Linked DNA regions of Homo sapiens: regions 1 and 3 are each linked to region 2. The links come from fine-mapping of genetic effects on gene expression. A gene starts in region 2. Each other region holds a variant in brackets. All regions are shown on one strand. Distances are between the middles of the regions.

Region 1 (5,185 bases), 27 kb after region 2:
GGTTATTATCAAGTATCTACTTTGTGCCAAGCCTTTTGCTAAGTTCTAGGCCACCTGGCATTTCTGCTGGGACATGGAGAATCTTGCCGTGGGTTGGATCTCTGTGCCCCAGAAGCCTCATGAGTTGGTCCCTGGGGTGGCAAATCCCCCACCCACTGTAACCTTGTCCCTGTGAGGAGAGACTGAGGGGCAGGAGGGCAGCTTCATTCACCCCAGAGATGCGCCCTGCCTGCAACAGGGCCAGCCCAGTGGGATGATCACAAAGGGCCCTGCTGCGTGGTTGGCCCAGCAGGGAGAAGACAGGTCCTGTGGGTCTCTGTTGGGAGCAGAGGGTGGCCAGCATTTCCCCAACAGCAGTAATGAAACCTCCCTTGCCAGCAACTTCTCCAGCAAAGCATTTTCAAGGAAAACAGGAGGCCAGCACAAAGGCAGTGCTAATTACCTCTAATTACCCAGAAGAGGAAAGCACTGTTTTTTGTGATGTACTCCTAATGTGATAAAGAGCTATTATTAGGCAGGAGCTGGGAAGCTGCCACGAAGACAGCCTGAGGAGGGAGCGGAGTCTCCAAAACTGCTGGTCCCAGAGGCAAACAAACTGGGGGTGGTGGCAGGGGCAGGCCGGGAGGGACTAGGATTAAAGGAGGGCCTACTATGCACCAAGCATCTTACATGCGCTGCCCTGGAAGTTAGGCGTTTCCACCATTTCCTAGATGAGGACACTGAGACACAGAGAGGTTAAGTAACTGGCCCAAGGTCACACAGCCAGTAAACCAGTGGCAGAGCCAGGATTCTAAGCCATGCCTCTCTGGTGCCAAAGGCTGTGCTCTTCCTACCATATCCCATTCCCAGTAGAAATCAGATCTTGTGAGGGCTTTGCAGCATTAAAAGCTACTTTCTTCAGCAGATGCTTTTTATCTCTGATTCTTCTGGCAAAGGGAGACTCCTGGGGTGCTGAGGCACAAAGTCCCTGCTCCCTTTCACCCCATTCAGGGTGCAGGCACCTTGAATAGGACAGAGAGCCCTGGACATGGGTCAGGAGGCATCAGCTCTGAGCCCTGTTGATGGTGACAGGAGGCAGCCAAATGCCTAGGCAGACGGGGTGGGTCCCTGGTGAAACCCCACCTTCAAGCCAAAAAAACAGCCTGAAGGCTGAAAGACTGGACTGCTGGTCCCACATGAAACCTGTGACCCAGAGTGAGAACTTCTGTTCCTGTTTGCCCACACTTCCCCTATTCTGAGCCCATAAAAGCCCCAGACTCAGCCACATTGTGGGGACTTTCCTGCCTTTGGGTAGGGGAACCATCCACTCATCCCCTCTCTGCAAAAAGCTGTTTCATCACTCAATAAAACTCCTCGCCTTGCTCACTCTTCAATTATCAGCGTGTCCTCATTCTTCTTGGATGCTGGACAAGAGCTTGGGACCCACTGAGTGTGGGTACCCAGAAAGGCTGTCATACTGGCCTTTTGCCCTCATCAGTGGAGGGCAGCTGCCCCACGTGATGGGGTCAGGGGCCGACTGAGCTGTTAATACACCACCGTCTATTGGGCCGTCAATGGTGGAACTAAAACAGCTAATTAGCACACTAACGCCCCCTCTGGGGCTTCAGGGTTGTGGGTACCCCTGCCCAGGTGCTGCCACTTTCCCCTCGAGGCAACACGCCTGGTCTGGCCACAGGCCCAGCATGGAGCTTGCTCTTGTGTCGGTGTTTGGAGTGGTCAGCCAGAGCCCACACTTGCTCATTCATGTGCTTCCTCCTGCAAGGGGCTGAGTGTGGTGGACCGAGTAGATGGGGTGCCCCTGCTGCAAGTGTGGCCAAGGGGCTGAGAGAAAATTCCTGTCACTGTGGTTTGCTGGTCTTGTGACTCAGCTTACCTCATTCCCACAGAGAAGTGGGCAGCACAGCTTCCAAGCTGGGCTCAGAGTCCAGACCTACAACTCTGGCTATGACTCCATGCTCCCAAGTCTCAGTTTCCCAATCTATGATCTGGGGATGCTTAATACCTCCTCTAGGGAGTTGCGAGGTTTACAGCATGTGAGCCAAGTCTATCTGTGAAGACTCTTTTTTTTTTTTTTTTTTTTGAAACAGAGTCTTGCTCTGTCACCTAGGCTGGAGTGCAGTGGTACCCTCTCGGCTCACTGCAAGCTCCACCTCCTGGGGTCATGCCATTCTCCTGCCTCAGCCTCCCGAGTAGCTGGGACTACAGGTGCCCACCGCCACACCTGGCTAATTTTTTGTATTTTTAGTAGAGACGGAGTTTCACTGTGTTAGCCAGGATGGTCTCGATCTCCTGACCTCGTGATCTGCCCGCCTTGGCCTCCCAAAGTGCTGGGATTACAGGCGTGAGTCACTGCACCCGGCCCCTGTGAAGACTCTTTAACCAGGAGCAACCAGTTTCATAAATGGATGAGCCTAGAAATGACTCTTATTCTACCCCAGTCCCCAAAGCTCCCAGTTAGGAAGGCACAGGGTGGCTTCATTTGTGATCCTCTGGTGGGTTAGGAATTTTGTCTTAAGGCCCTGGAAGTTTAGGGGTGAAGATACAAGTGAACTGGCCCCAGCGACCTGGTGTCAGGCCAGGTGAGAGGCCCAGGTGACCTCTGGGCAGGGACATGGCTGACAGACTTTATGGACAGCAGCACCTGGTGAAGTTTTGATTTTGTTTTTTTGTGCAATAATTCCCCCATGTTATCAAATGCTCAGTCAAGTCTCAAAACACATGCAGCCCAGTGTGAGCCACACTGTGGTGGCACGGGTGGGTCTGAGGCCTAGCTTCATTGGCCATTGAGATGCAGTGGTGGAGTGATCAGAACAGGCAGCTGCTGATCCTGAATGGGGAAGCCAGAATGCCCCTCAAACCAGGGGATTTTTAGATGCCCAGAAAGGAGTCTAGTCT[G/A]TCTGCAGGAAGCAGCTGCTCAAACAACCATGAGTGGAAACTGGGTGATATGGTTTAACTGTGTCCCCACCCAAATCTCATCTTGAATTGTACTCTCATAAATCCTATGTGTTGTGGGAGGGACCCAGTGGGAGATAATTGAATCATAGGGGTGGTTTCCCCCAACCTGTTCTCATGGTAGTGAATACGTCTCCTGAGATCCAATGGTTTTATAAGGAGAAACCCCTTTCACTTGGTTCTCTTCTCTGTCTTGCCTGCTGCCATGTAAGACGTGCCTTTCACCTTCCGCCATGATTGTGAGGCCTCCCCAGCCACGTGAAATTGAGTCCATTAAACCTCTTTTTCTTTATAAATTACCCAGTCTTGGTATGTCTTTATCAGCAGCGTGAAAATGGACTAATACACTGGGTTACATGTGGGAAGCACTTGGCACTTGATAAATGGCAGCCAGCAACATAATAACTAGAAACCAAAGATTTTGTTCTCAGGGTCCCCTGATTGCTGAAGTCGGCTTGTGCTTGTAGTTACAGCTTATTCCTTATTCCTCCCCTCCCCGCCTCCCCCTATGGAGCACCTCTCCCACTGGTTCTCATATCTACCTGGGCTGGGGCTACATCTATTGGCTTCAGACCTGGGTTTGAGTCCTGCTTTGCCATGTTTCAGCGGTGTGACCCTGGAATGTCTCTAAGCCTCAGTGACCTTGTCTGTACAATGGGGACAGTAATGTCTGTAAAAGGCTTAGGGCAGGCCGGGTGTGGTGGCTCATGCCTATAATCCCAGCACTTTGGGAGGCCAAGGCAGGTGGATCACCTGAGGTCAGGAGTTTGAGAACAGCCTGACCAATATGGCGAAACCATATCTCTATTAAAAATACAAAAAAAAAAAAAAAAAAAGAATTAGATGGGCGTGGTGGCAGGCGCCTATAATCCCAGCTATTTGGGAGGCTGAGGCAGGAGAATCGCTTGAACCTGGGAGGCGGAGGTTGCAGTGAGCCGAGATCGCGCCATTGCACTCCAGACTGGGCAACAGGAGTGAAACTCCACCTCAAAAATATAAATAAACAAATAAATAAATAGGCTTAGGGCAGAGCGGGACATAGAGTGAGTGTCCACATGGGAAGCTATTAATTCCCTAGGATAGCATGTGGCAGGTGAACGAGGTTCTTTCAAGTCTAAAAAAACTGAAGTTGGTCAGGCACGGTGGCTCACGCCTGTAATCCCAGCACTCTGGGAGGCCAAGGTGGGTGGATTGCTTGAGCTCAGGGGTTCAAAACCAGCCTGGGCAACATGGTGAAATCTTGTTTCTACCAAAACTACAAAAAATTAGCTAGATGTGGTGGTGCACACCTGTGGTCCCAGCTACTCAGGAGGCTGGGGCAGGAAGATCACTAGAGCCTGGGAGGCAGAGGTTGCAGTGAGCCGAGACTGTGCCACTGCACTCCAGCCTGAGCGAGACCCCATCTCAAAAAAAAAAAAAAAAAAAAAAAAAAAAAAAAAAAAGGCCAGGCACGGTGGCTCATGCCTATAATCCCAGCACTTTGGGAGGCTGAGGCAGGCAGATCACCTGAGGTCAGGAGTTCAAGACCAGCCTGAGTAATATGGTGAAACCCCATCTCTACTAAAAATACAAAAATTAGCCGGGCATAGTGGCAGGCTCCTGTAATCCCCGCTACTCGGGACACTGAGGCAGGAGAATGGCTTGAACTGGGGAGGTGGAGGTTGCAGTGAGCTCACACCATTGCACTCCAGACTGGGCAACAGAGTGAGACCCCATCTCAAACAAAAACAAAAAGAAAAAGAAAAGAAATTCAAGTTGGGTTTGTGTGGCTGCCCAGCAGGTGCCCTCCCACTCCATTCACTGCAAGAATTCTTTCTGACCATCTGCCCCTGCACCCCAGCCTAGTTTTAGCTGCATGGGAACCCTTAGGAGTATGTTTAAAATGTGGACTCATGGCTCTGCCCCTAGAGACTGATGTAGAAGTTTTGGGCAGTGGGGCCCTGGGCTCTGCATTTTAAAGATTCCCCAGATGTCCCGCTCTGCATCCCATCTTTCCACAGCCTAGCAGGCAGGTGCTTCTGCTTTTGGTCTAGCCTAAAGCCCTCCACCTGTGTCCCCTGCTTGCTCCAGCTGCTTCTCGCAGAAACATACAGTCCTGACTAGTGAGCTGAGATGGGGCTGTTGGGGAGCCCTGGGTGGGGGGGACTCGGGAGTGGGGAACGGCAGTAATACAGGAGCAAGAGTGAGGGCTCTGGAGGTTCAAATCCAATCCTGTTCCTGTTAATTGCTAGTT
Region 2 (5,191 bases):
ATGCACTACCTACAGATTTTTACAAAGCAACATTTATCAGGCAAAATTTTTTACTCATCTCATTCACAGCTCCACTGCCTTGGTTTCATAGCAGCAGAGAATTTAAGAGGCTTTGCACAACTTCACAGAGCAAGTGGCAGACTCTGGATGATGAACCCAGGATGCTGGGCTCCAAAATCCTTCCACACAGCACCTCTCAGGGTTGCAGCTGTTCACGTCAGAAATCCCTGGGCTCAAGGAGTTAGCACAGAGCTGAATGCATTACGATTGTGCTGATGGGAACACTAAAGCCAAGAGCTAGGTTTTTTTTTTGTTTTTTTGTTTTTTTGTTTTTTTTTTTTTTAGATGGAGTTTCGCTGTTTTTGCCCAGGCTAGAGTGCAGTGGTGTGATCTCAGCTCACTGCAACCTCTGCCTTGTGGGTTCAAGTGATTCTCCTGCCTCAGCCTCCTGAGTAGCTGGGATTATGGGCGTGCATCACTACACCTGGCTAATTTTGTATTTTTAGTAGAGACGGGGTTTCATCATATTGACCAGGCTGGTCTCGAACTCCTGACCTCAGGTGATCTGCCCGCCTTGGCCTCCCAAAGTGTTGGGATTACAGGCGTGAGCCACTGTGCCCGGCCAGCTAGTGTTAACATAGTATCAAAGACACAGATTACATCAGTGTCATTTAATCCCCTCAGCTACTCTGTGAGGTGGGTGCCATATTGTTCTGCTAACTATTACAGAAGAGAAAGCTGTGACCCAAGGAGATGGAGCCACTGGCCCTGTAATCCCAGAGCTGGGATGGAGCGGGGATCCCAAGCCATGTGTTTCTGACTCTCTGCCCAGGCTTGCTGTACTACGTTCTGTTCCTTGGGGGCATGGCAGAAATCGTCACAGTGGTGCAGTGTGGTGGCAAGGAGGAAGGACAGGCCTCCTCTATCTGCTTAAAAGATGCTTCTGTGGGCAAGGCTGGGGCTCTGAGCACCAAATAGCAGCTTAGAGTTGGCGGGTGGGTGCTGCAGGCTCTGAGGTGCCTGAGGGGAGGTTTTTGACCATCTGTAATGGGCTCTCTTTGCCATGGGCATCGAGCAGATCTGGGTTTCAGGTCCACTTCACCACTTGCTGCTGGTGATCTGGGGCAAGGCCCTTGGCCTCTCTGAACCCCAGTTTAACGTCTACCTCTCAGCATTATTGTAGGGGTCGGAATAAATAACTGGAGGAGTAGGAACCGTACAACAAAGCCCCTGGGGACAGCGCAGGAGCCTTCGATTTGGAAAGTATTATTTTTCTGTTTCTGTGGAGAAAAAATGATCCCACCCCGTTCTCTTTATACTACATTTTCTTTTTCTCTTTCTCTTCTTTCTTTCTCTTTCTTTCCTTTCTCTCTTTCTTTCTTTCCTTTTTTTTTTTTTTTTTTTTTTTTTTTTTGACAGAGTCTTGCTCTGTCACCCAGGCTGGAGTGTGCAGTGGCACAATCTTGGCTCACTGGAACCTCTGCCTCCCAGGTTCAAGCAATTCTCCTGCCTCAGCCTCCCGAATAGCTGGGATTACAGGCTCCCGCCACCACGCCCAGCTAATTTTTGTATTTTTGATAGAGACGGGGTTTTACCATGTTGGTCAGGCTGGTCTCGAACTCCTGACCTCAGGTGATCTGCCCACCTCCGCCTCCCAAAGTGCTGGGATTACAGGCGTGAGCCACCTCGCTGGGCCCACTTTCTCTGTTGATTATGCTTATTGTTTATTGTCTGTTTCTTCCACTAGAATGTAAGCTCCATGGAGGTGCGGATCTTTGTTTTGGCCACTGTAGTGTCCTGATGGGTCAGAACAGTGCCTGACATCTAGTGGATGCGCCTTAAAAGATGCATTGAAGTATCTGTTCAATGAATGAATGAATAACAGTATTAACCTGCACAGCAGTGTTAGGCAGAGACTCTTCTCAGCCAGAGGGGAGACGTACAGAGGGAGGTCACACCCAGGGGAAACCACACCCCACGCCTCTGCCTGCAGCGACTCTTAACACACCTGGCCTGGGGATTCTCAAATCTGTTCACGCTCTGTTAGACTAGGAGCGCCAACAGCTCAGGGACTTCATCCTTAGTACCTGGCCCCTTTGGGGATCGGGATGGTTTCTGCGGGAAAGGCCCTGGGGAAGGTTAGCTTCTTGCTCAAACTAACGGTGAAGAATGCCCAGAATTACTAACCCATTTTACAGATATGGCAACTGAGGCCCAGAGGGGTGTCAGGCGATTTGTCCAATATTTCCCAACTCCTGGCTCCCCTGAAAGCCCGGTGACCCCGTTGTGAGTGGGCAGGCACCCATTAGAGAGCAGCCCCTGGATAAGGGCAGGTCACAGCCCCCTGCTCCCAGTTCCGCCTGCGCCGCCGCCACGTGTGGGTTGGGAGGGGCATCTGAGGGTGTGGGGGCTGCCACAGCCCGGGAGGTGACCCCTCGCAGCTGGGGCGCTCTGATCTTCGGCCCACAGGCCCGGGGTGCCGGGACCCCGCCCTCCTGCAGGGCCAGGGCTCGGCTCTCCCCGCCCACCGCGAGGCGGGGCGCACGCTCCGCGGCGCGGGGACCGCGCGCTCCAGGCTGCACCCGGCCTCTCCTCCGCGCGTGCGGGCCCCTCGCGGCGCCTCCCGGGCTCGGGAGACCCGGTCCCGCCGCCCGCCCGGCCCGCGGCCGCCTCTTCCTCTCGCAGCCCCGCGGCGCTTGCCGCAGTCGCAGGCGGCGGAGCAGCCAGAGCGCCCCAGGTACCAGTGCGGGCGGGAGACGGAGGCGACCCTGCTGCCGGGTGGGGAGGGGGCGCCGCGCGGCCGCTGCCCTCCTCTTCCCGCGGGGCCTGGCGGCCCCGGCGAACCCCCGCGCCGCACAGGCCGTGTGCGCCGGATCCCGGTGCCTCCGCGCCAGCTGAGACCTGCCTTTCCCAGGGGCGGCTTTGCTCCGGCCCCTAGGCCCCCGCCCTGGTACCCCACACGCCCACCGGCCGCGGGGAGCCTGCTCCGGCCCGAGAGCGCCCATTCACCCCCCTCACCCACCTCCCCGCGTTCCCACTTCCCCGCACTCTGACCCGGCCGGACGCCCCTCCCCTATCTTGCCGCCCGCCCCCTCCAGGGGGCTCTGCTCCCACCCCAGGGAGCCCATCCGACCTCTGCTTGACTTCCCGCCGCTTCCTTCAGGGGCCTCGGCTCATCGGGTGCCCCTCCCCAAACTTCCAACCCGTTTGCTCCAGGAGTTCCTGCCCCATCCCCGAGGGCGCCCAAATAGCCACACTGTGTCCTCCTGTAGTCGCTGCCCCCTGACCTAGCGCGACCCAGCGCCCCCGCCCATGTCCCCCCACTCACCTCCCCCGGGGGGCGTGGTGAGTCGCGGTCTGTTCTCACGGACGGTCCCCGTCCAGCCTGCGCTTCGCCGGGGCCCTCATCTGCTTTCCCGCCACCCTATCACTCCCTTGCCGTCCACCCTCGGTCCTCATGGTCCCAGAGCCGGGCCCAACCGCCAATAGCACCCCGGCCTGGGGGGCAGGGCCGCCGTCGGCCCCGGGGGGCAGCGGCTGGGTGGCGGCCGCGCTGTGCGTGGTCATCGCGCTGACGGCGGCGGCCAACTCGCTGCTGATCGCGCTCATCTGCACTCAGCCCGCGCTGCGCAACACGTCCAACTTCTTCCTGGTGTCGCTCTTCACGTCTGACCTGATGGTGGGGCTGGTGGTGATGCCGCCGGCCATGCTGAACGCGCTGTACGGGCGCTGGGTGCTGGCGCGCGGCCTCTGCCTGCTCTGGACCGCCTTCGACGTGATGTGCTGCAGCGCCTCCATCCTCAACCTCTGCCTCATCAGCCTGGACCGCTACCTGCTCATCCTCTCGCCGCTGCGCTACAAGCTGCGCATGACGCCCCTGCGTGCCCTGGCCCTAGTCCTGGGCGCCTGGAGCCTCGCCGCTCTCGCCTCCTTCCTGCCCCTGCTGCTGGGCTGGCACGAGCTGGGCCACGCACGGCCACCCGTCCCTGGCCAGTGCCGCCTGCTGGCCAGCCTGCCTTTTGTCCTTGTGGCGTCGGGCCTCACCTTCTTCCTGCCCTCGGGTGCCATATGCTTCACCTACTGCAGGATCCTGCTAGCTGCCCGCAAGCAGGCCGTGCAGGTGGCCTCCCTCACCACCGGCATGGCCAGTCAGGCCTCGGAGACGCTGCAGGTACCTGGGGTGCGCAGGGAGACCCGGGCTGTGGGATAGAGAGGAATGAGCAGCCCCTGGGGACCCCCTGGGCATCCCCACTTAGCACACATTTGCTCATGGCCCTGCGTGGCTGTTGTGAGCGCCCACCTTTCTTCTGAACTCCAGAGCCAATGCCTGACCCACCCACCACAGGATAGCTCCGTCAGGATTTGGGGGCAGGCTTCTCCCAGGTACCATGTACAACAGGGAATTTATGGTGGCCCAACTCTCCCCATCTTTGCCTCCCTGGTCTTCCCCATCATGGCAAATGGCACCATTGCGGCATCACATGCCAGGAACTTAGGAATACTTTTCTCCCTCACCCTCATGCCATTCATTAGCGAGACCTGTTGGCGCTGCTCTAAACAGGTGCCATCTCCCCTGCCACTTCCTACCGGGGAGGCTGTGTAGACTTCTCCTGGCTCCCCTGCTTCTGCCGCAGACCCAGTACTCTCCATCTTCTGCATAGAAGCTGGAGCACTTAAAAAAGAAGTGATCATGTCACTCCCCTGCTTCAGACTCTTCAGGCTTCCCACCGTGCTCCAGATAAAGAAAACCTGTCTCAGGATCTGGCCTCAGGATCCCACACTGCCATCCTCTCCAGTGTCACCTCCCCTCTCCCTCTCTCTTACTCTGCAACAGCCTTGTGGCCTTTCTCACGGTTCTAGAAGGCACTGGGCTTACTTCTGTGCCCAGGTCTTTGCACTTGCTGTTCCCTGTGCCTGGAATGTTCTTCCCCCGGCTGCCTTCTTCCCAGGGGCCATCTTTGACCACCCTATCTGCAGGCCCATCTGCACTCTCCATCCCTGTTATTCTCCATAAGAACAAGTCATAAAAATGACTTGTTCATTTTGCCTCCCTGACTTGAATATAAGCTCCAGGAGGGTCACACATATTGAGATCAGTTTTTTTGCTTTTTTTTTTGTTTTTGTTTTTGTTTTTTTTGAGACGGAGTCTCGCTCTGTTGCCCAGGCTGGAGGGCAGTGGTGCGATCTTGGC
Region 3 (5,186 bases), 59 kb after region 2:
AGGGGATCTCCTTCTGAGACTCAGACAGCCATCAGGGCTCACTGTGAGGGCCAGGAAAAGATACGCTCCTGCAGACTATTCTCTCCATATACACCTGTGCTCACCACAGAAACTTCAGCAGAGAATTTGTTTCCCTGGAGCTTAGGCAGACAGTGTGGGCACGTGCTCCATTGCTTGAGAGTGGCAGTTAGTGCTGGACCTCGAGAAAGCAGGATTCAGTTTGCAACACTGTCTCCTGTGAGTTTTCCTAGTGGGACTGCTCAGCTCTGGGTGCAAAATAGATAAAAATTATATTTAGTGGCCAGGCGCGGGGGCTCATGCCTGTAATCCTAGCACTTTGGGAGGCCGAGGTGAGTGGATCGCTCAAGCTCAGGAGTTCGAGACCAGTCTAGGCAACATGGCGAAACCCTGTCTCTTCAAAAAATGCAAAAATGAGTCAGGCATGGTGGCACATGCCTGTAGTCCCAGCTACTTGGGAGGCTGAGGTGGGAGGATGGCTTGGGCCCAGGGGAAAGAGGCTGCAGTGAGTTGAAATTGTGCCACCGCACTCCAGCCTGGGTGACAGAGGGAGACCCTGTCTCAAACAAAACAAAACAAAACAAAACAAAACACAACACACACACACACACGTTTTGGAAAAGTCCAGGGCCAAACCTGGAAATATACTGACCTTCCAGGTACTACTAACCTTGGGACTCTATCTGAGGGGCCAGCGGCCTCCCTGGACATGGCTCATCTCATTGCACATTCAAACACCAATAGCCTTAACAGATTCTCTGGGCAGGGCTTGATGTTTCACAATTTACAAGCAACTGACTCCATGATTAAATTGATCAGTCCTCTAAATTCCTGACTTACTACCCTTCGCAGAGTAGTCCGTTTCCTATCACTAGAAGCAACTAAGCAGAGGCTAGTAGACAGATGGATGATGTCAAGGGGATCCTGTACAGTGTGGAGGTTTGTTTGAACCAGACGATTTCAAACGTCTTTTGGAACCCTGAGTCTAGGAGTCCACAATCACATGCTCATGGGACGAAAGAATGAAATGAGGCCCAGCATATCAGCCTCGATAAGATGTTCTAGCAGTGCCTTCTGGATCATTATCCTTCAACTGAGTGTTAAGTGCCCTTTACAGGAGTCAATGCTCTCAAGGCTGCAAGCCACCTACTGTACAACAGTCTTAGCCAATCACTCAGTATGTACTATGTGCCAGGCTCTGTGCTAAGAGCTTAGATGCGCTATTTTATTTTCCTTAAGAGGTGGGTATCGTTTGATCTACATTAATAATAAGGAAAACTTGAAGAATGTAGGGGACTTGCACAGGGTCATACCGTTCCCATGATCTTAACCTCATGGCATGGAGAATTGTGGCCTTCTGGGTAATTATGAGCACCCAACTCTTTACTCTGCATATACTTTATAGTTTAGGAGTAGAAAGTGTGTCTGCAAATGGCTACAGCAGGTGGTAGGAAAGACAGGCTAGGGAGACACAGTCCTGGAAGAAAGAACCCCTGGGGCACTTTTGTACAAGGGTTTCCCTGGTTCCAAGGGAGCGCTGCTGGTCTGGAGGTGGTGGGATGTCTGGCACAAGCTCTGACCCTGGGGCAAGGGGGCTGGGGGGTGCATCCAGTGTCAGCGGCAGGAACACTGTGATCCTCAGCCTCTCCTCCTTCCGTGCCTGTGTTTCTCTCTGCCCACCTTCTTCCCAGGCCTCCTCCTATTGCTCCTATGGGAAGAGGGGGTGCTGGCCTCATTAGTCAAGCGTGAGGACACTGATGGGACACATGTACTAGTGGGCAGGTTGCTGTACATCAGGAAGCCGGACTGCAGGCTCTCCTCCCTCCTCTGAGCAAGGCAAGTCGCTGGAGGAGGTTAGGGCCACCTTCTCTCTCTCTGGCCCTTATCTGAAATGCGTGGGACCAGAAGTATTTTGGATTTCAGATTTT[G/A]GAATATTTGCATTATTCTTATTGGTTGAGCATCCCAAATCCGAAAATCTGAAATGCTGCATTGAGCATTTCCTCGGAGTATCATGTTGCTGCTCAAAAAGTTTTGGAATCTGGAGCATTTTGGATTTTGAATTTTTGGATTTGGGATGCCCAACTTGTATTCATCTCATATGGGGGATAGTCTCTTCTTTGTCTTCCTGCCTCCTTTCTCCTTCGATGCCACTGGCCAGGACCCCATAGGCCCCCAGATCCAGGGCTGGAGCTTTTGGGTGGCTGAGCCTGCTGTGTGACCAGCACAGCTTCTTCCCTGGGGGTTACTGGGTCCTAGCTTAGGTGGCGTTGAAGTGATGGGTGCCCCAGTCATCATGTAGCTAAAGTCTGCATGCTCAGCTCTCTCAGGGACCCTGTGGGAAGAAGGAAGTAATTTCCAAGGCTAGTATTTGGGCATTTCTGGATTCCTCCAGTCACAGCAACCAACTTCCAACACCAACACCAATCATCACTGCGTTTCAGGGTGCAGACCCTCTTGGTCTCCTTTCCTCACCTGTAAATTGAAGGTTTGGACAATGTGATTTCTGGAGGCTCTTCCAGCTCTGAGCTGGGGCCCTGGAAGCTAAGTGGATTTATCTAGTAGACAATGGGGGCTGGTGGCCAATCTGTGAGAGGAGGGTGAAGCGGGTCACCTGGTGACAATGCCCTGTGGGTTAACAGTGAAGCAGAGAGGTCTGACCCCAGAGGCGAGGCTGGAGCAAGCCCCCAAATTCCTGCCTTCTTTAAATAACAGAGACAACCCACATTCAAGGTGAGATCAAATGCATTTTAGCCGGTGGCAACTGCTAAGGTCAAGGGTGCCTGCATTCCCAGAGGGAAGCAAATGTCTTTGAAAGGCAGTCGGCAGGCTAAGAGTCTTGGAAAGAGCCTGGGGGCTGGTCGGCCTTTAGTTTAGATTAAAGCACAGATTAAATGAATCCCACTTCTGTAACTCACTCCCCTGAGAGCTGCCAGTTGGGCTAAAGACATTACTGCTACATTAGTGAGCTCAGAGACAGTGAGTACCATAGCCTTGGAAAAATCCATTTGGATAAACTAATGGAGAATAAGAAAGGAACACTTACTTGTTGGGAGTCTACTATGTGCCAAGCATTGTGCTGTTACATCCACCATATAAAAAGGCCAGCTTTGTGGTTGGACAGGCTGGAGTTGAACCCAGGTTCACTATTTGTAAATTGCTGCAGCTCTTTGCTGTGCCAAGTCCCATGCTAGGTGCCGATGACAGAGGGCAGAATGAAATGGACACAGTCCCTGCCATCAATCTCCTTATAGGCAAAATGGGAAAATCAATAACTATATCTTAGAGTTGTTTGTATATTAGATGAGGGAAAACAGGCAAAGCCCTTAGCATATCACTTGGCATATAGTAGGTGTTCAATAAATGGTAGTTATTAAATCCTAGAATAACCCCCAGAGGGATCAATATCCCAATTTTACTAATTAGTCTGAAGCCCAGACAGGTGAAGTGACTTGCCCAAGGGTACCCAGACAGTAACTAGTGGAGTCTGGGTTTGAACTGATGTTTCTAGACTCTAAGTTCAGTGCTCCTTCTTTTGTTTTTCTTTTTTCTTTTTTGAGATGGAGTCTTGCTCTGTCACCCAGGCTGGAGTGCAGTGGCACAATCTCTGCTCACTGCAACCTCCGCCTCCCAGGTTCAAGCAATTCTCCTGCCTCAGCCTCCTGAGTAGCTGGGACTACAGGCGCACACCACAATACCCAGCTAATTTTTGTATTTTAAGTAGAGACGGGGTTTCACCATGTTGGCCAGGATGGTCTCAATCTCCTGACCTCGTGATGCACCCGCCTCGGCCTCCCAAAGTGCTGGGATTACAGGTGTGAGTGCTCCTTCTTTCATGTCATTCTCAGCTGGTTGCAATGATCCTTGCATCTTGAAGACACTAGGAAAAGTGATCAAATTGAGCCCGCTTACAGATGGCAAACAGATGGGGAAGCCAGGATTGACTAATGGACCCTAGGGCCCAGAGTGAAGCAGGTCCTGCAGCCTCTATGGTGCTGAATGAAGACACCTGCAGGCAGGCTGGCTCAGCTCAGCGTGTCTTGTCAACTGCATGGACAGGCCCACAGGTCACAGGCAATATGCAATATGTTGAATTAATTCCCTTCAAAGCCTTTTGGATGCAGAGGAGAATAAATGCATAAATAACCTGAAGCAGCAATTGATTTCCTATGGCCATTTCTCAGCTCAGCCAGCTACTACAAGTCAGTTGGAATTGAGTTTGCTTTCCAACTACTTAATTTTTCAAAGACTTTTAAAAGCAAAAATATAGAAAAGATGAATGCCCCCTTGTGATCAGGGCCCAGGGTCCCATAGTGAGTGCTCAGATGCTGGCTGTTCCTGGCAGCAGGCACCACCTCCCTGCCCTTGGCACGCACTGGGGTCAGAAATACCCTTGGGGACAGGGTCAGTCACTCCCAAAGCAAATTCATGCCCTATGCTGGGACTTGGACTGTTGCTAGAGGGGGATTGTTCATTGCTAGGAATTCTGACTATGCTGGTTTCCTGACCAAAGGCACAATCATTTGGCAGGTGCATGTTTTGTCTTGGTTTTGAGTGGGCAGAGTCGTTACCCAGGCTGTGTGTGTGTGCCAGCCGATCAAGCCCGATGGACAGTCTGGAATGGAGCGGGCCGAGCACAGCGTGGTCACTGGGAAGTCTGGGCAATAGATCAACCAGCTGGCCCAGGCCTTGGGGGCTGAGGAGTCCACTTTGCCAAGGCAGTTCGAGCCTTGCCGCACCCAAAGGCCTCGAGCATGGTCCCCTGCAAGAAGCCCTCACAGCAAACTTCATGGCTGCCTTTGTGTCCCTCACGAGTGAATCAGCTCCTAACATGTACTGGGCACCTCTACATGCCAAGGCCTGAGCCAGGGGCTGGTGACACAGAGGGGACAAAACAGACAGTGCCTGGTGATCGTGAGTGTGTGTTTTCCCTTTAAGCATCAGCCACATTCTAGCAGGGGAGAGAGACCTGTGGGCAGATGCATTGTAACCCAACGTGGTGAGCTTGGAAACAAAGATGGGCAAAGCACTGAGAGGGAGCAGGGAGGCAGCTGAACACAGTGCCATGACCCAGGTGTGGGTGATGGCCCTGGGTGTGATGCCTGGCTCGGCCACCTTCCAGCTCTGACTCTGGGCAAATCCCTTCGGCTCTCTGAGCTTAAACCTGGGAG

What was found.
Region 1: its variant is fine-mapped to the expression of HTR6 in whole blood (INTERVAL, PIP 0.99).
Region 3: its variant is fine-mapped to the expression of HTR6 in whole blood (TOPMed, PIP above 0.99).

Annotation. Positions count from the first base shown.
Region 1 is chr1:19,688,807-19,693,991 of GRCh38, forward strand. The region is part of intron 15 of TMCO4 (transmembrane and coiled-coil domains 4); the gene reads right to left. Among named protein-coding and RNA genes, the nearest start is that of HTR6, 27 kb to the left of the region's middle. RefSeq lists an enhancer at 242-756. The variant G/A (reference allele first, on the strand shown) is at 2,896.
Region 2 is chr1:19,662,297-19,667,487 of GRCh38, forward strand. It overlaps HTR6 (5-hydroxytryptamine receptor 6), which reads left to right and starts at 2,579. Exons shown (of 3, transcript NM_000871.3): 1 at 2,579-4,171. The coding sequence starts at 3,458. RefSeq lists a silencer at 2,393-2,622 and enhancers at 2,401-3,373, 3,374-4,344.
Region 3 is chr1:19,721,208-19,726,393 of GRCh38, forward strand. The region is part of intron 13 of TMCO4 (transmembrane and coiled-coil domains 4); the gene reads right to left. Among named protein-coding and RNA genes, the nearest start is that of HTR6, 59 kb to the left of the region's middle. The variant G/A (reference allele first, on the strand shown) is at 1,947.